Linked DNA regions of Homo sapiens: regions 1, 3 and 4 are each linked to region 2. Evidence: fine-mapped expression QTL. A gene starts in region 2. Each other region holds a variant in brackets. All regions are shown on one strand. Distances are from middle to middle. Region 1 has its middle 68 kb from the start of SERINC1. Region 2 holds the start of PKIB (cAMP-dependent protein kinase inhibitor beta). Region 3 overlaps PKIB (cAMP-dependent protein kinase inhibitor beta). Region 4 has its middle 8.8 kb from the start of HSF2.

Region 1 (5,042 bases), 71 kb before region 2:
TTTTTGTCCTTGTGATAGTTTGCTGAGAATGGTGGTTTCCAGTTTCATCCATGTCCCTACAAAGGACATGAACTCATCATTTTTTATGGCTGCATAGTATTCCATGGTATATGTGCCACATTTTCTTCATCCAGTCTATCGTTGTTGGACATTAGGGTTGGTTCCAAGTCTTTGCTATTGTGAATAGTGCCACAATAAACATACGTGTGCATGTGTCTTTATAGCAGCATGATTTATAATCCTTTGGGTATATACCCGTAAGGGGATGGCTGGGTCAAAGGGTATTTCTAGTTCTAGATCCCTGAGGAATCGCCACACTGACTTCCACAATGGTTGAACTAGTTTTCAGTCCCACCAACAGTGTAAAAGTGTTCCTATTTCTCCACATCCTCTCCAGCACCTGTTGTTTCCTGACTTTTTAATGATCGCCATTCTAACTGGTGTGAGATGGTATCTCATTATGGTTTTGATTTGCATTTCTCTGATGGCCAGTGATGATGAGCATTTTTTCATGTGTTTTTTGGCTGCATAAATATCTTCTTTTGAGAAGTGTCTGTTCATATCCTTTGCCCACTTTTTGATGGGGTTGTTTGTTTTTTTCTTGTAAATTTGTTTGAGTTCATTGTAGATTCTGGATATTAGCCCTTTGTCAGATGAGTAGGTTGTGAAAATTTTCTTCCATTCTGTAGGTTACCTGTTCACTCTGATGGTAGTTTCTTTTGCTGTGCAGAAGGTCTTTAGTTTAATTAGATCCCATTTGTCAATTTTGGCTTTTGTTGCCATTGCTTTTGGTGTTTTAGACATGAAGTCCTTGCCCATGCCTATGTCCTGAATGGTATTGCCTAGGTTTTCTTCTAGGGTTTTTATGATTTTAGATCTAACATGTAAGTCTATAATCCATCTTGAATTAATTTTTGTATAAGGTGTAAGGAAGGGATCCAGTTTCAGCTTTCTACATATGGCTAGCCAATTTTCCCAGCACCATTTATTAAATAGGGAATCCTTTCCCCATTTCTTGTTTTTGTCAGGTTTGTCAAAGATCAGATGGTTGTAGATACGTGGCATTATTTCTGAGGGCTCTGTTCTGTTCCATTGATCTATATCTCTGTTTTGGTACCAGTACCATGCTGTTTTGGTTACTGTAGCCTTGTAGTATAGTTTGAAGTCAGGTAGCATGATGCCTCCGGCTTTGTTCTTTTGGCTTAGGATTGACTTGGCAATGCAGGCTCTTTTTTGGTTCCATATGAACTTTAAAGTAGTTTTTTCCAATTCTGTGAAGAAAGTCATTGGTAGCTTGATGGGGATGGCATTGAATCTATAAATTACCTTGGGCAATATGGCCATTTTCACAATATTGATTCTTCCTACCCATGAGCATGGAATCTTCTTCCATTTGTTTGTATCCTCTTTTATTTCATTGAGCAGTGTGGTTTGTAGTTCTCCTTGAAGAGGTCCTTCACATCCCTTGTAAGTTGGATTCCTAGGTATTTTATTCTCTTTGAAGCAATTGTGAATGGGAGTTCACTCGTGATTTGGCTCTCTGTTTGTCTGTTATTGGTGTATAAGAATGCTTCTGATTTTTGTACATTGATTTTGTATCCTGAGACTTTGCTGAAGTTGCTTATCAGCTTAAGGAGATTTTGGGCTGAGACAATGGGGTTTTCTAGATATACAATCAATTCATCTGCAAACAGGTACAATTTGACTTCCTATTTTCCTAACTGAATACCCTTTATTTCCTTCTCCTGCCTAATTGCCCTGGCCAGAACTTCCAACACTATGTTGAATAGGAGGGGTGAGAGAGGGCATCCCTGTCTTGTGCCAGTTTTCAAAGGGAATGCTTCCAGTTTTTGCCCATTCAGTATGATATTGGCTGTGGGTTTGTCATAGATAGCTCTTATTATTTTGAGATACGTCCCATCAATACCTAATTTATTGATAGTTTTTAGCATGAAGCATTGTTGCATTTTGTCAAAGGCCTTTTCTGCATCTATTGAGATAATCATGTGGTTTTTGTCTTTGGTTCTGTTTATATGCTGGATTATGTTTATTGATTTGCATATGTGGAACCAGCCTTGCATCCCAGGGATGAAGCCTACTTGATCATGGTGGATAAGCTTTTTGATGTGCTGCTGAATTCGGTTTGCCAGTATTTTATTGAGATTGTTGCATCAATGTTCATCAAGGATATTGGTCTAAAATTCTCTTTTTTGGCTGTGTCTCTGCCAGGCTTTGGTATGAGGATGATGCTGGCCTCATAAAATGAGTTAGGGAGGATTCCCTCTTTTTCTATTGATTGGAATAGTTTCAGAAGGAATGGTACCAGCTCCTCCTTGTACCTCTGGTAGAATTCGGCTGTGAATCCATCTGGTCCTGGA[C/CT]TTTTTTTGGTTCGTAAGCTATTGATTATTGCCACAATTTCAGATCCTGTTATTGGTCTATTCAGAGATTCAACTTCTTCCTGGTTTAGTCTTGGGAGGGTGTATGTGTTAAGGAATTTATCCATTTCTTCTAGATTTTCTAGTTTATTTGGGTAGAGGTGTTGTAGTATTCTCTGATGGTAGTTTGTATTTCTATGGGATCGGTGGTGATATCCCCTTTATCATTTTTTATTGCGTCTATTTGATTCTTCTCTCTTTTATTCTTTATTAGTCTTGCTAGCGATCTATTGATTTTGTTGATCTTTTCAAAAAACCAGTTCCAGGATTCATTAATTTTTTGAAGGGTTTTTTGTGTCTCTATTTCCTTCAGTTCTGCTCTGATTTTACTTATTTCTTGCCTTCTGCTAGCTTTTGAATGTGTTTGCTCTTGCTTTTCTAGTTCTTTTAATTGTGATGTTAGGGTGTCAATTCTGGATCTTTTCTGCTTTCTCTTGTGGGCATTTAGTGCTATAAATTTCCCTCTACACACTGCTTTGAATGTGTCCCAGAGATTCTGGTATGTTGTGTCTTTGTTCTCGTTGGTTTCAAAGAACATCTTTATTTCTGCCTTCATTTCATTAGGTACCCAGTAGTCATACAGGAGCAGGTTGTTCAGTTTCCATGTAGTTGAGTGGTTTTGAGTGAGTTTCTTAGTCCTGAGTTCTAGTTTGATTGCACTGTGGTCTGAGAGACAGTTTGTTATAATTTCTGTTCTTTTACATTTGCTGAGGAGTGCTTTACTTCCAACTATGTGGTCAATTTTGGAATAGGTGTGGTGTGGTGCTGAAAAAAATGTATATTCTGTTGATTTGGGGTGGAGAGCTCTGTAGATGTCAATTAGGTCTGCTTGGTGCAGAGCTGAGTTCAATTCCTGGGTAGTCCTTGTTTACTTTTGTCTCACTGATCTATCTAATGTTGACAGTGGGATGTTAAAGTCTCCCATTATTATTGTGTGGGAGTCTAAGTCTCTTTGTAGGTCACTCAGGACTTGCTTTATGAATCTGGGTGCTCCTGTATTGGGTGCATATATATTTAGGATAGTTAGCTCTTCTTGTTGAATTGATCCCTTTACCATTATGTAATGGCCTTCTTTGTCTCTTTTGATCTTTGTTGGTTTAAAGTCTGTTTTATCAGAGACTAGGATTGCAACCCCTGCCTTTTTTTTGTTTTCCATTTGCTTGGTAGATCTTCCTCCATCCTTTTATTTTGAGCCTATGTGTGTCTCTGCACGTGAGATGGGTTTCCTGAATACAGCACACTGATGGGTCTTGACTCTTTATCCAATTTGCCAGTCTGTGTCTTTTAATTGGAGCATTTAGCCCATTTACATTTAAAGTTAATACTGTTATTTGTGAATTTGGTCCTGTCATTATGATGTTAGCTGGTTATTTTGCTCATTAGTTGATGCAGTTTCTTCCTAGCTTTGATGGTCTTTACATTTTGGCATGTTTTTGCAGTGGGTGGTACCGGTTGTTCCTTTCCATGTTTAGTGCTTCCTTCAGGAGCTCTTTTAGGGCAGGCCTGGTGGTGACAAAATCTCTCAGCATTTGCTTGTCTGTAAAGTATTTTATTTCTCCTTCACTTATGAAGCTTAGTTTGGCTGGATATGAAATTCTGGGTTGAAAATTCTGTTCTTTAAGAATGTTGAATATTGGCCCCCACTCTCTTCTGTCTTGTAGAGTTTCTGCCGAGAGATCCGCTGTTAATCTGATGGGCTTCCCTTTGTGGGTAACCTGACCTTTCTCTCTGGCTGCCCTTAACATTTTTTCCTTCATTTCAACTTTGGTGAATCTGACAATTATGTGTCTTGGAGTTGCTCTTCTCGAGGAGTATCTTTGTGGCGTTCTCTGTATTTCCTGAATCTGAATGTTGGCCTGCCTTGCTAGATTGGGGACGTTCTCCTGGATAATATCCTGCAGAGTGTTTTCCAACTTGGTTCCATTCTCCCCGTCATTTTCAGGTACACCAATCAGACGTAGATTTGGTCTTTTCACATAGTCCCATATTTCTCGGAGGCTTTGTTCGTTTCTTTTTATTCTTTTTTCTCTAAACTTCCCTTCTTGCTTCATTTCATTCATTTCGTCTTCTATCACTGAGACCCTTTCTTCCAGTTGATCGCATCGGCTCCTGAGGCTTCTGCATTCTTCACTTAATTCTCGAGCCTTGGCTTTCAGCTCCATCAGCTCCTTTAAGGACTTCTCTGCGTTGGTTATTCTAGTTATCCATTTGTCTAATTTTTTTTCAAAGTTTTTAACTTCTTTGCCATTGGTTTGAATTTCCTCCTGTAGCTCAGAGTAGTTTGATTGTCTGAAGCCTTCTTCTCTCAACTCGTCAAAGTCATTGTCTGTCCAGCTTTGTTCTGTTGCTGGTGAGGAGCTGCGTTCCTTTGGAGGAGGAGAGGCACTCTGCTTTTTAGAGTTTCCAGTTTTTCTGCTCTGTTTTTTCCCCATCTTTGTGGTTTTATCTACTTTTGGTCTTTGATGATGGTGACACACAGAAGGGTTTTTGGTGTGGATGTCCTTTCTGTTTGTTAGTTTTCCTTCTAACAGACAGGACCCTCAGCTGCAGGTCTGTTGGAGTTTGCTAGAGGTCCACTCCAGACTCTGTTTGCCTGGGTATCAGCAG
Region 2 (5,042 bases):
ACATGATTGTGTGGAATTACTGCTACCACCAATTCTTGGACTCAAAAACTCCTCCTTGCACTTATGGTCAGGTCGTGTCTAACATTTGCAAAAGCAGCTACTGCAAACCTTTCCGCATCTTCTCCTTACTTTCCTAGTAGAAATGAGAGGCCATCAAAAATCTTAAATCTAAATAGACAAAAGCATTCTATAAATAGTGTTCTTATAAGTCATTATTTGGTCTTAAGTGTGGAAACAAAGTTAATACTTATTCATTTCAAAACGGCCTGTAGAGTACCTACTTTGTGAAGGTACTATTCTAGGTGTTGAGGATATGGCCTTCATGGGCCATACATTCCAGTGGTTCTGATGATTTCATATGTAGGTTAAAAGCTTAGCAGTGAGGTCTAGTGGTTTTCTCACATTGATCCCAAAATACAGATTTTACAAAGCAAAATTTTCAAGTATAGGAAATACACTTGCAGGATCATAAAAATCCAATCATGATACCATAATTCATAAGTTCAAACATTTTAGTATCACTCTCTGTCATAGTACCTCTAAAATAAATAAACCTTAGAATAATTTGCCCTAGATAATAAAAATATATGTTATTATATAATATAATAATAACAGGCCTTAGCAGTATGCCAGATAATAAGTTTTAAAGTTACACTAATGATATAAATAACTCTCAGTCTCTTTGATTAATGCTTGTGTAACCACACAAGTAACTATATTTTTATTAGGCGGGTGCAGAAGCTACTGCAGTTTTTGCCAGTACTTTTTTGCAATTACTTTTGCACTAACCTAATACAAAACAAAATGTGCCTACATCACAATTCAGAAAAATCACAGCTTTATTAGCAGAGTATAATTTAAGGAAGTCAATCAATCCTGAAGGCAGAAAGACCTAAGTTCAAAACTGATTTGGAATCTTCTCAGCTATTTAGCCTTGTTCAAAGTATCTAACCTTGCTGAACCTCAGTTTACTATCTGAAAATAGAGAAAATTATTACTATATTGTGGAGGTATGAATATTGAATAATTTAAAGAACTTGATTGTACTACCATTAGCACACACTGAATAAAATATTAGTCTGATTATATTTTCGTATTTCCATATTTAGGCTTTTGCCTAAAAAGGGAATTTGGAAGTGGTCATTGGCAGGTGTCATAGGCTTTGGGTGGCAAGTCAGAGCATAGTATGAATGAGCAAATTAGTAAAGACTAGAGATAAGAGAAGACTTTGAGTACTAATTAAGAGTTTCAGGAGACCAGAGGAGATTTTAAGACTTCAGTGAGAAACCACTTTCTCAGGAAGCAGATAAATTAATTTTATCAGCAGTATCGTCGTCCATGTAATATGGCTTTTAAAAAGCACAGTGAGACCTTAGTAGTAACGACTTTATTTTTCTTAGTGAGAACCTGAAAGTGAAACTTGATATACATTATTTTCTGCTTTTATTGCACAAAAAGTTGTTTCCATTGCATATTGCTTCCTAATCTGTTAAAATAATCTGTTAACAAACTCGAAGACCCAGATTCGGGGCGTAGATAAGCCTGTGTACCTTCCTACCTTCTCCAAACAGCCAACATTAGATCAAAGGGCAACCTTAATGACACCTGGAGCACAAACCCTGCTCAGGGCGCGTACAACCGGAGGGACAGAAAACACGATGCGACGTCGGAAAGCAGGAAGGGAATTGAAATTCCCGCAGTCACGTCACAGAAATCTTAGCAGAACCTCATCATCGCCCAAGGGAACTGGGAGTGGCGGGCGGGGAGGACGCGGGTTGTGTGACGATCACCGATAATTAGTTGGTGGTTAACGCACAAGTAGGATAAAAGAGCTCGCCCCAGGCTGCCAGCAGAAAAAAGCTACCGTGGCACGTGCCCCGGGGAGTGATGCGGTGGCCCGGTTTGCACGGAGAGCGGGACACCGCCTGGGGAGCCGCGCTCGTAGCCTGGGGGCGGGACGCGGCGGCCGCTCCCTCCGCCCCCGAGTAGCTGCCACCGCCTGGCTGCGCCCCAGCCCAGTAGCTCAGACGCGGCCGCATCCCGGTGGACTGTAGAGGCGGCAGCGAGCTAGAGCCCGAGTCGCAGCTCCGGGCCGCAGAGCGCTGGGCGAGCGCGAGCGCCAGGGCACCGGCAGGGCAGGCAGCTGCGCGCGGCTGGTACGTACCTGGTGGAGCGGGCGCGTGAGTGGGTGTCCCTATGCGAGGAGGGAGGAGTGGGACTTGGGAAGTCGGGGGAGACTGACCCAGGGAAGATGTGGTAAGTGCAACTTTCCTATTTTCTGCCCTGCTGGCACAAATATGGGGGGAGTTCGAAGCAGATGCCTCTTTCGCTTGGGCGACCCGATCCATCGTTTAACTCACAAGTCAGGGTACTTAGAGAGTGAAAAGGACGCTCACGCCAACAGGCGTGACGTGGGAGGTCTGTCACCTGCCTTTTGCCCACTCTGCCCTGCAGGTGGCCATTGATGACCTCCTGTCACAAGTCGCTGAGTCCTTCGGCTCTCGCGCCAGCAATGCCAAGTCTTTCCCCTGGGCGGTGCTTACCAAGCCCCGGGTAGTCACGAGCGGCCGCGGGGTTAGCAGAGACCCGAGTACTAACCCGCTCGGCCAGCGTCCGGCTGTGTGGCTTTAGCCAAGTCACCTCACCTCACTGGCCTCCGTCCATTCTTTGGATAAAATATGGAGGTGGGTAGACCGAGTAAACTCAAGGGTCGCCCGTAGCTATTGGATTTTCCCTGCTCCTAGGACCCCGGCAGGCCGCAGGGAGGGACACGAGTGCCAGGTGGTCGCGGGCTGAGGGAGCGGAGGGCCTGTGTTCCGGTTGGTGCTGATGCTAGCCCCTTGGGGAAATTCCTGAAGGTGCATTTCGGAGCCAAATGACCCTGCCTTGCAGCAGGTCCCTTCCAAGGGAGCTGAGAGGGCCAGGTCAGACCGGTCTTCGTAGAGCTCCCCGGGGAACGCAGCCAACGGAACTCGGGTCCTTTAGAAAAGTGCATGCGTGAACTAGGCATGTGGGAAGCACTAAAACAAACAACAAACAAACAACAAAACACCCTGCAGGTGGTAGTGTTATTAGCTGGAGTCTGTGCAGGACTGGAAAGTGGAGATTTGAGGCGAATGACCACTTAAACGTTCATCTAGAAAAAAAATTTTAAAAAAACTCTTTTATCAGTGGTTTGCATACTGAAAGGTATTGAATTAGAAATATTGCGAGTATTGCATTTCTCTTCGTGTACAGATAGATTTCAAAATTCATCTGTCCACTTTATCTCTTCACAAGATGCCTTCCTTCTTACTGACATTGCCACACATTCAAAAAAAATCCTCCTGGGATTTTATATTTAGAAAGCTCAGCATTTGGATTATTAAAATGAGAACTGATGACCATAATGCTCACGGAAAATGGGGTAGGTTATGGATCAAGTTTGGTTAAATCAGCAGTTTATAAACCTTGTTTCCTGTTAGTGTGCCGGGTGCTGGTCAATGCCCCCCTAGTGACACTATCTCAAGAGATCATTTGCTAAAAAGGTGTTTTGGAAGTTCAAAAGATTCGATTTTGAAGGAAAGTATAGCTTTGGAAAGGAAATCTTTTGGAAAACGTTTTTAGTAATGGACTTCTCAATCTTATCTTTACCACAACTTTCTTCAATAAAATATCAAAGACTAATGGACCACATTATGCAGAATATTTTAAAATGTGTCAAATTTCATTTTTGTTAAAGAGTTTTTCCTCCTTTTTAGTCGATTGCAAACATATTGTTTAGATCAATGATAGATCAATTTAATTTTCCTCACAGTTCTTACAATTATTTAAATTCTTACGCAGTTTGCATTACAGCATTTTTTTACAACTTTATTGAGATATAATTTATATATTATAAAGTTCACCCTTTAAGGGTGAATAATATTTAAAAATTATATTTCAGTGAGTTTTAGAAAATTTGTTAATTTTCTAAAAGTTGTAAAACCATTACCATATCTGGTTTTAGAACATTCCAAAATTGTAAAACCATTACCATATCTGGTTTTAGAACAGTTTACTCACTTGGTAAGATTCCTTATGTCCATTATGTCTTTGTTCCCACTCCCATTCCCAGGCAACCATTAATCTACTTTCAGTCTATAGATTTGCCTTTTCTGAACATTTTATATAAATGGAATGATATACTATATGGTCTTTTGCTTATGGCTTCTCTTACTTAGCATAATGTTTTTGGGGTTCAGCTATGTTGTGGCATGTATCAGTATTTCATTTCTTCTTATTGCTGAATAGTTTTCCATTGTATGGATATACCACATTTTGTCAATTTACTAGTGGATGGATATTTGGGTTGTTTCCAATATGGGAATATTATGAATCATGCTGCTGAGAACATTTGCATTCAAGTGTTTGTGAGTACCCGTTTTCATTTCTCTTGGGTAGATGCTTAACAGTGAAATTGGTAGGTTGTATGACAAACTTGTGTCTAACTTTTAAGGAACACTATAGAGTAATTTTTGTAGAAGTTATATATATAAAAATTTAAAAAATTCTGGAAAAATAAATGTTTCTTACTGGATCATATATGATGTTATATGTATATAGAGAGAGGCTTGGGAGAGGAACCATTGCTTCTCTTCAAATTTAGAGCTGAGGTACAGCAAACACTTTTGAAAAAAATGTCGCAATATTTCTCAGAAACGAGATATTTCTTGCCTAATGTTTTTTAATGCTAAATGAGCATGAATCAGGCTTAATCAAGACTAAATTTTCATTAATGTCAATTGAAAATGAGAAAGCATGCAGTTTGAAAATTGTATTTTAAGTGTTGAGACTTAGCCAGCTCTGAATGGCTGGACAATAAATTCGGTGGTTTTCCATTTCTTCAATGCAAAATTTTAATTGAGTTAGAAAAAACAAAATTATTCTTTCCTCAACATCAAAAATAAACTATACGTCTTGTGAACTATATGTCTTGTGATAAGCATTGTTAATCATGATTCCATATAATTATTTTAAATAATAATTAAGCATATTCTATTAGTAGATTTAGGGATCTAAGG
Region 3 (5,042 bases), 89 kb after region 2:
AGTGGTAGGGTGTCTTAGTCACCTCCTATTTACCCTGTGGGTGAGGGAGAGCTAAACACCACCTGACCCTGAAGAGATGAGACCAACAGCAAGTTATTAGTCATGTCTACTGATGGCCTGGGGGAGGAGGACATGGCACACCTTGCAGGGCCACACAGGAGTTGCACTCAAGAGCAGAGTGAACAACCAGGTCTGTAGGAGGTAGCCTTTGGAGAATTAAGAGGGTAGGGTGCTCCCAGTTCTTGTGGAATGATGTGATTCACTTGTTTGATTTGGCAGGCAAACAGAGAACAAAACCTGCTACTCAAGGATAAATAGAAACTGTGCCTGGTCCCCTTCATAAGGATGGTGGTCTGTCTAGGATACCTGATCTATGGGAGGAGAACTTGTAGTTAGGCCATTAGAGACCTGTTTTATCAGATATCAAGCCTAAATTTTTGGCTTTATGCTACAATTGATCACTTGATGCTTTGACATCAGTTTAAATCTTGATGATAACTGAGACTTTTAGGGATTAGGAGATGTGCCTTCCTAGGAAGCAAAGTAGGCACCTGACCAAGCAGAGAGGGCCACATTTTGAGGTGGTTGCCAAAAACATGAACTTCGGGCATGTCTCCATATATAACCAGTAAAAGCAATTGAGAGACCTGTGTGACATTGATGTAGAGAGTGGATGCTCCCAGGGGGTGTGAATTGAGACTAACCAATGCTTGTGGCAGTGGTGACATCAAGGGGGTAGAGGGACATTTGTCTCATTGTGACTTAAATAGTTCTTTGAAAACCCATTAGGCTTATCAATTAAAGTAGCTGCCTGGGGCTAACTACCTGAGGCCTATGGGAAGGCTGCATTTCAATGGAAAGCTTTCTTCAAGATTCCATTGTGTATTCTGAGACATAAAATGAGTGCCTTGGTAACAATCTAGTGTCTAAAACTGCAAATGAGATAAGGAATATCCTGTTGAGGCCTTGTATTGTGGCCTTAGGATATGTAGAGAAACCTGTTGATTTGGTTTATATATTTATATTTGGGTACCTGTGAAACAAGAGATTCACAGAGTTCTTTAAAGTGAGACCCTTAGGCAATGGTCTAAGAGTTGTAAAAATATACATATGAGGTGAAATGGCCAGGGCATCCATTGCCAAGATAAATGTCTAGAGTGTGCCAATTGTGCTGACCCTTGGGTTCTATTCTTTATCAGGGACATCTTGGTTAAGGAATTAAGAGCAACAACTCTCTACTGAGCTCTATCATGTATAATTGTGGCAACATCATTGGTAAAATGTATGGCCTTCTATTGCCATTCATTCAGTTGATCCCAGGGGGCTCTCCAGGTAGCCAAGGACTCTAGGAAAGGGATGACTTCCCCTAGCACCATGGTTTTGGCAAAGGACTGATGGTAGAGGAGGCCACCACCTTCTACAGATAGAATATGCCAGAAGGGCCAAGCTTGACTCCATCCTGTCGCAAAGAGGTCTCATAGCTAGGCCAGATTCATGGGGGTGCTGCTCCAATGCATTACCAGGCATTGCAGTAGCTGGGTACAGAGGGTCACAGGCTCAAAGTCTGTGAGACCCTCTATTTCCAGAAAAGCCCAGTGTGTGGCCAGTAATTGCCACTGTAATGGTGTATAGTACAAGGCCAGGAAAGGCAGTTTCTTGCATCAGAAGCCCATGAGCAACTTATGACCATCACAGGTGGCCTAGAGACTCCAGGAGGCATGAGATGAGGTCGCTGAAGCCTCTGAGGGCACTAACTGGAGTGCCTGTTGATTTCATTTTGGACAGCTTCTACAGCCTTTTGTTGAGGAGGTTCCCCTTTAAGATGGGCAATCTGTAAGTAACAGCACTAGTGAAATTAAAGAAAATTTGCAAAAGAATATGTTGTCTCCAGAACCCAAAAAAGACTAAAAGATGTTGGACTTGTATTAACCTTGTAGGTACTGAGAGGGTTAATACCTGTTTTTTGACAGTATCAGGGATGGAGCAGCTTTTGCTTTACCAAATAACTTTCAGGAATTTAACAGAAGTCACAGGACTTTGTACTATGTGTGAAATATCCACCCTTTTTGTGTGAGTTCCTTTGTATTTGTATATTCTTAATGAATACGTCAAACAAATCTTCCTGGAGAAGGATGTCATCAATGTAATATACCTGTGCTCCTGGAGAAAGGTGGATGTCATTAAGATCCTGCCTGCAAAGACTGTGTGCAGTAGCAAGGCTGCTGAGGTAGCCCTTGAGTAGCCTGGTAAAAATATATTATGTAGCAGCGCACCAGCATGGCACATGTATACATATGTAACTAACCTGCACAATGTGCACATGTACCCTAAAACTTAAAGTATAATAATAAAAAAAAAAGAATTGCATTTGTGAACTAAAATATATATATATATATTGTGTCTCATGGGAGGTAAAAGCAAACTGTGACTGCTAAACTGCTGACATTGGCACCAAATGGATCATATTAGCCTAATTCATAGTAGCAAAATATTTATCAGTTGCTGATTGGATGGAGTCAGAAGTTTCAATACTCAGTTTGTTGGAAATAGGGACCTGAACTGTATGGGACCATGGCATTAAGGTTGCAGCAGTCTACTGTGCTGCACCATTTATTTGTTCCAGGTTTAAGGACAGGCCAAACAGGCCAGATTGGGTTGTTAAATGGAGAAGCAGTGGGGATAATAACCCCTGCACTCTATAGCTGTCATGTAACAAATTTTAATCCTCAAAAGCCCTGTTTTAAATTACTTTGAGCCATGTTAATAATTATTTTAATTTGGGGTGGAGGCAGAAGAGTCGGGAGTTTCCATCCTGTCAAGCCAATTTATAAGTGTCAAGATTTAATCTAATTTCCATTTATTTTTCATTGGGTCAGAGCGTCCATGTCCATTATGGGATATTTTAGGGCAATGATTGCTATGACCATGATGAGAAATTTAGGCAAGACAGTAATTATGATGGTTAAGAAGAGGCATATCTCTTTGTCCTCTATTTTATATGCCAGAACTCCCCTAATGTTATGGGGGATACCATGTTTAAATTTAGGAAGATCCTAGTCATAACTGTAATCTGAGCCCTAATGCCAGTTAAAACC[A/G]TGAAGGTTTGCCAATTGGTGCATTTCAGCAGGTATTAAAGTTAATTAAGAACCTATACTGTAGAGGCACAAAAGCCAATCAGTGCCCCTTTATCTTGGCTATATAAATGCCTTTAATATATTTTGAATTTCCAATTGGGTCAAATTGTAGATCTTTGTTTTAGGGTTCTGTTGTTGTTGTTGTTGTTGTTGTTGGTTCCTCCCCGTATCCAGGATATTTTTTTCTTTGCTTTTTAAAATTTCTTTTCTTTCTTTTTTTTTTTTTTTTTTTTTTTAGTGGTGGTCACTGGACATATTTGGTGGTGGTGGGGTGGTGGTGTGGGATCCTCTTTACCCTGATGATACTTATAAGTCTTTTCTCTCAGAGAGCTTCAAATTAGTATCATCAGGGTTAGGGGTTTCCCCCACAGCAATGGTTGCTTTATATGGTTTAAAGACCCTGGGCTTAAGTTGAGTTTGAATTAATGGTGCCATGGGGTACCACAGTGCCACAAAGGTAACATAGGTATTTCTCTATAACCTCAAGGATTAGGATCTTTATTGCAACAGAGACATAGTAAGCAGAGTGGTACAGGGAAAGAAAGCTAGGTTTATAACCCAGACTCAATAGACCAAAATTATCTCCTGCTGCCACTGCCCTACCGTTTCTGTCGTGTGGACTTTTTCCCTCTTTGTTTGTTTCTTTCTCTGCACAAATTCCCTGAGAATATTTTGAGTTTTTAGCTAGGTGAAATTGGAGCTTTCTGTAAAATCACCTGTGGTGCAAACTTTCTGGGTACTTATGGGAAAACATTAGGGAGCTTAGTGGCCTTTCTCAGAAGTGGCTGCCTCTTCCTCTAGGAAGTGCGAGTCCATCTCTCTAGAGTTGAGGTCCATATCCAGTAAAGTCATTAGTCTATGGCTTGGATAGGGCCAGCAAGCCCATGATTGCAAGATTGGCCATTTGGTGTGCTAGTAGGCAGCAGTGCTGAGCCCAGGCATACTGGCTATGGGTTTTGCATTGGCAAATCATTTGAGTACCAAATGCTCCTTCCTCTCCCCACCCTTTTCTTTTTTCATTAGCACCTGTGCCACAGGCCACCATGGATCTGCACCTCGATGCCCTTCGGAGTCATGAGAGTGCAAGCAATAGCAGCTCAGGAAGCAGCAGCAGAGGAGACCAGAAAGGTCACTACCTTTGCATGAACAACAATGGCAACCAGGATACCATGCTTGGTTCTCCATGGTGTGGCCACTTTCCTTCCCACAAACCTCACACAGGGCTGCCTCTGCGCCTGTTCCATAGGTGTACCATTACAAGCAATGTCTGTATTGCTGCTCCAAGCAGCCAGTGACAGTCACCAGGCTAGACATGGTGATCAGAGAGCTCTAGCCTGAGCTCTGGTAAGCAGGAATGAAGTACTGACTGGTTAAGGCACTGTTTTCTCATTGCATTTACAGGCTGAAGCTTCAGAGATCACCTGCCAAACACAGGCTGAACCTGACAGCATGTCACACCAGGGTATAGTTAACAACCATTTTCTTCTTGGGGACAAGAGCATTGCAGAGTTAAAAGAGATGGCATAACAGTGCCACATAGGCCATAGCTCAAGCCCATCAGCAGTTAGCAGTTCTGTCTCAGGTACCCTTGCCAAATAACTCAGAACCAAATAACCAAGGAACAGTTAATTTTAACTGACTAGGTGTCTTCTGAAATGGTTGGGCATGTCATATGGTTCATAACACCAGTGGATTTTATTGCTTTCTATTCACCCCATTGGTGAACGAAAGATTCCTGCCCTGGAGATTCAGAGATGCCTAGACAACCAACACCCAACACTGGACAGATGAGATCCACAGCAGTTTACTGGTCATACATACCACCAAAGGAGAAGAACATTGCAGGGCATGCAGGAGCATGTGAGGGTTGTAACCAGGAATAGTATGAACAACCAGGGGCTGTGGGAG
Region 4 (5,042 bases), 220 kb before region 2:
CCACTATAAATCAGCAAGGTTAGTAAAATGTTTTTATCAAAGTTGTTTAATATCCAGAGTAGTTGGACTTTTTGGTTGTCACAAGGTTTTGGTATAGTTGAAAGTCCTCCTATAGAGAGTACATTAGCAGTCTCAGTTGCTAAAACAATGGAAAATTATTTTCTCACTGTTCTGGAGGCTAGAAGTCCAAGATCAAAGTGTTGGCAGATCTAGTTTCTTCTAAGACCTTTCTTCTTGGCTTGCCGATGGATTCCTTTTCCCTGTGTTCTCACATAATTACCCCTCAGTCTGTAGGTCTGTGTATTGTCTGCATTTGAATCTCCCCTTCTTATAAGGACACCAGTAATACTAGATCAGGCCTACCTGCATGGACTCATTTTATATCAATTATATCCATAAAGGCCCTATCTCAAAAAACAGTCACATTCTGAGGTACTGGGGGATTCAAATTTCAACAAATAAAGCTTGAGGGGACACAAGTCAGCCCATAACACATAGTATAAAGACCCAAATGATTTATCTGATGGAAACAAGACTCAGGATCAAAGCACACAATGACCTCACTAAGCACCAAAGCAGGAGAACCAAAACATGTTTTTGTTCAATTATGTTCATTTGTTTGTTTATTGCAGATTTTTATATCTTAAAAACATTAAAATAGTTACCATAAAAAAGCAGAACTTTATTACACATTCTAATTCTTATTAGAATAGAGTCTTGTTAACTGGTGACTATAGGTCTTAGCCAGCCTGTGGAAGATCCTGAGTAAGGGCTAAGGGAGCAGCCCAGCCAAGTAGGTGGGTATGGGCGGCAGGGCTCTGCCTCTCATATGGGAATTGGAGTGCAGCCTAGTTATAGGCTAAAGAGAGTCAAATTGGAAGCCTGCCACTTTGAACAGGGGATGTCAAGCACTCACTCTGGGAACATCAGATACAAGAGACTTGGGATACCAGATTTGGTTTGGATTCTTCTAGGGTCATCATACGGCAAATCATAAAGTGATAGAAAGGCATAGGCTTCAAAGTGGAAAAGTCTGAATCAAAACACATGCACACACACACACACACACAAACACACACACACACATATATATATAAAACATGCTGATCGTGAACCTATTAGAATGTAATCGAACCTCTCTGGGTCTCAATTTCAATAAATATCTCTAAACACCAGAACACTAGCTCATTTTGTTTACTATCTTCATTTTTCACAGCTGGCTAGGACTAGAAGAGATAGTTACAGATAATTATGAATTAATTCAGTGGAAAATAAACCAGACCTAAATTGGTCCAAAAGCAATACAGAATATATCTTCAGCCACCAGTGCCCCCAAAAATCACATGTAATAAAGTGTATAGTTTCCTGGCTTTGCATTGTGTTATGAAAATAACAAAGAATAAAGGTATCTCCTTTTATTTCTATCCAAAGGTGAAATCACCCCTGAGCACTAAATATTAGATTATTCTCTGTCTTGCTTAAACATTTGCTATTGCCATAGAAGCATGATGTTGACATTTCTTGTTGCTAGGAGCGTCATAGTGTTGGATACGTATACAATAGCATTCTGTTAGCTCAAACGTGGGGCTTTTTAAACAGCAGCATGCTCTTTTTATATCCTGGTACAGTAATCTAAAGTATAGATTTACCATGCAAATTATACATGAAAATCTGAATTTACTACTACACAGAAATAAAAGCACCAATGCTTAATAATTTATCTTTAAGGAATATTTTTGCAGCATCTCAGAGTGGAAAAAAAATAAAAACCTTGAAACAAAGCAGATGCCCATCAGTAGCAGAATGGCTGAATCTATTGTGCTGCATACAAGCCACAGAATATCATGGAATCTTTAAAAGGAATAAATTATAGCTATGCCAATTGACATGAAAGAGTTTCTACCATGCGTTATCAACTGAGAAAAGCAAAATGCATAAAATTGTTTATATACACCAATGTTCATAGCAGCATTATTCACAATAGTCAAAAGGTAGAAATAACTTGTGTCCATTGATGAACGAATAAAAAAAATGTGGTGTATGCATACAAACGAATATTATTTAGCTTTTAAAAAGACAGAAAATTATGACACATGTTTACAATATGGATGAACCTTGAAGACATGCTAAGTGAAATAAACCAGTTACAAAAAGACAAAGACTGTATGATCCCAAATATATGAGGTAATAGAGTAGTTAAATTTATAACCACAGAAAGTAAAATGGTGGTTGCCAGGGGCTGAGGGAAGGAGGAAAAGCATAAATGTTATTTAATGGGTATGGAGTTTCAGATTTGCAAGATGAAAGGCATTCTAGAGATTGATTGCACAAGAAAGTGAATGTACTTAACGCTATTAAACTGTACACTTAAAAATTGTTAAGATGGTAAATTTTAAATTGTGTATATTTTACTGCAATTAAAAGTAAATTTTAAAAATTGGGAAAATGTTTTATATAAAAATAATGCCAATAAACTCTCTTTATACATATAAATACATATATAACCTACTGTAAATAGAGAAAATTTGGAAGGATGACACCAGGTTGTCAAATGAGTTACCCTGTATGAATGCAAACTAGAGGGAATAGTAGGTCGTTCAAATAAATCAAGAAAATAAATGATATAATCCCTACATTGGAGGCAATGGGAGTTCTCTACAGAGTGATACTCGGAGGCCTTTATTGGCCGTAGTGCTTTTTAGTACGTCTTGAAATATATCTTTAGCCACTAATGCCTACAAAGTCATATGCAATAAAATCTATGACCCCCAGCACTGAAAATCAGCTTCCCAGCTAACTGAACTCATAGTTCAATGTAGGGATCTATTTTGTTGCATCAGTTTAGAAAA[T/C]TTTGCCAGATTTACACTTCTGAGAACTAATCTAAGCCAATTTGATTATCCACAATGACTGTTTTGGTAGCTTCAAAGAGTTAGAGCTAGGTGAAGTTGAGTTGACCAAAACCTTACCACCAGAAAGAAGTTTATATTTTAAAAATATTAAAATAATCGTCATGAAAAAAGCAGAAATTCTGCCACACATACAAAGATGTATTAGCAAGAAGGCACAAAAAGTTATTCACCCTGCTATATAAACCTGATGAAGTATGTTGCATAGAATATGTTGCAGTATTCTAACAGTGGGATTCAGCTAACTTTCAAGAAAGTCAGGTGACAAAAATCTACTCTAAGTAGCAGTATTGCCTTTATAATCTAGGAGAGGAATCTCTTTTTGGAGCCCAGCACCTTAAAGAGCCCTGAATATCATAACACATACCAAAAAATTAATTTATTAAGGAACAAACGGTCACTTCTATCATTTGGAATCCAGCACTCCGTGTTGGCATAGTGTAACTCTAAACATTATTCCAGCAACTAAGAGCTCCAGGAAAATTCTTCTCCTACGCCCTTGAGACACAAGGTTTGCAGGTTGTACTACTTTATGCCCATGCCAGCTGCTTCTGAGTGAGAATAGTTTATTTTTTTGAAATGTTTAATACAATCTGATTATAGTTTCAAAATATTAAGCTTAAAATGTCAAATTTATATGAATGATTTTGTTTTTAAATTAGAAATTTATTAATTATAATTTAATTTTTAATTTTATGATATTTCTAAATATTTTAAAACAAAATGTACAAAAACTTTAATTTTCCTATTTTTAACATGTATTTGAAATACATTTTATAAAATATATTCAGATTTGGTTGTTAAATACAGTTGTACTTTGAATACAACTACATTTCAAATACTTTGATCCAATAGAACATAGGTTATGTGACAACCTTGATGGTGACAATCTAACTGAAATATAGGCAAGAAAAAATAATTTTATGGAATAAATATACAATGATCTACAAATTATATATCTCTATTTTATTAATCATCAAAAACATCATTCCTCCATCAACAGAACACCAAACAATAATTACATTTGATCTTCGTGGATCAAAGTTAATTTAAAAATATTTTGCCAACCTAGTGTCTTATGAAAACTATACATACATTGTTTGTTTGTTTGTTTTTTTGTTTTTTGAGACAGGGTCTCACTCTGTTACCCAGCCTGCAGTGCACTGGCGCAATCACAGCTCATTGCAGCCTTAAACTCCTGGGCTCAAGCAATCCTGCCTTAGCCTCCTGGGTAGCTGGAACTACAGGCATGCACCACCATGCCCAGCTGAAAACTATGATTTGACACATATCTTTTAATTTTATTATTATGAAGATATATTTTTCAAGCTAGGAGACTAGAACATATTTTATTTAAGTTTGTTAGCTTGATTTGCAATCTTTAAAACTTCTGAAATATGGCATGTAAGCCTCTATTTTTACTCTTGCTTCAGGCCACCTAAATCCCCTGAACACTGGGTCTATGAGGATCCTAAGGTTAGGGCACCTAGAGAATAGGCTACCAGTTCAAGATAACACCATTCTCAGGTTAGTCAAAAATGGGGAAAGACAATACACTATTTTTAGTCAATACACATATCCTGAACTTCATTAATTTTACCAAGAAAGAAATCATTTCCACATCCATTGCCCTAGTTAACAAAACTTTGGTATTAATTAAAAAAATAAACATTAAGATTAAATCTTCATAGGAAAAGCATTAGATTAGTCTTTCATATGCTAACTAACCACCCCTGGAGAATGCCTTCCTAATTCGGGTTTTTCAACTGTTAACTTGACTGCCCCTAGGGTGCAGATTACAATTAACTACCACACTATATACTCCTCTTTAAATTGTAGTATTTTAAAGTAAATTATAGCAAATATAACAATTACCATATATAAGGGCTTTATAAATCAAGAGTTCTGCCATTAAGTAGCAAATTTTTTTTTTTTTTTGAGTCAGAGTCTTGCTTTGTCATCCAGGCTGGAGTGCAGTGGCGCAGTCTCAGCTCACTGCAAACTCCGCCTCCTGGGTTCAAGCAATTCTCCTGCCTCAGCCTCCGGAGTAGCTGAGAGCACAGGCGTGTCCCACACGCCTGGCTAATTTTTTGTATTTTTAGTAGAGATAAGGTTTCACCGTGTTAGCCAGGACGG

What was found. PIP is the estimated chance that this variant, and not a neighbour inherited with it, causes the effect. A credible set is the group of variants that fine-mapping cannot tell apart.
Region 1: its variant is the best candidate, but not a certain one, in a credible set for the expression of PKIB in monocytes after LPS (Quach 2016, PIP 0.50).
Region 3: its variant is the best candidate, but not a certain one, in a credible set for the expression of PKIB in whole blood (INTERVAL, PIP 0.90).
Region 4: its variant is the best candidate, but not a certain one, in a credible set for the expression of PKIB in nucleus accumbens (GTEx, PIP 0.56).

Annotation. Positions count from the first base shown.
Region 1 is chr6:122,537,437-122,542,478 of GRCh38, forward strand. It overlaps a transcript of PKIB not described here. Among named protein-coding and RNA genes, the nearest start is that of SERINC1, 68 kb to the left of the region's middle. The variant C/CT (reference allele first, on the strand shown) is at 2,379.
Region 2 is chr6:122,608,380-122,613,421 of GRCh38, forward strand. PKIB (cAMP-dependent protein kinase inhibitor beta) reads left to right here and starts at 2,026. Exons shown (of 5, transcript NM_181795.3): 1 at 2,026-2,156. RefSeq lists a silencer at 1,877-2,056 and an enhancer at 2,673-3,318.
Region 3 is chr6:122,696,905-122,701,946 of GRCh38, forward strand. The region is part of intron 3 of PKIB (cAMP-dependent protein kinase inhibitor beta); the gene reads left to right. Among named protein-coding and RNA genes, the nearest start is that of FABP7, 80 kb to the right of the region's middle. RefSeq lists an enhancer at 1-222. The variant A/G (reference allele first, on the strand shown) is at 3,096.
Region 4 is chr6:122,388,354-122,393,395 of GRCh38, forward strand. No RefSeq gene overlaps it. Among named protein-coding and RNA genes, the nearest start is that of HSF2, 8.8 kb to the right of the region's middle. RefSeq lists an enhancer at 4,880-5,042. The variant T/C (reference allele first, on the strand shown) is at 2,850.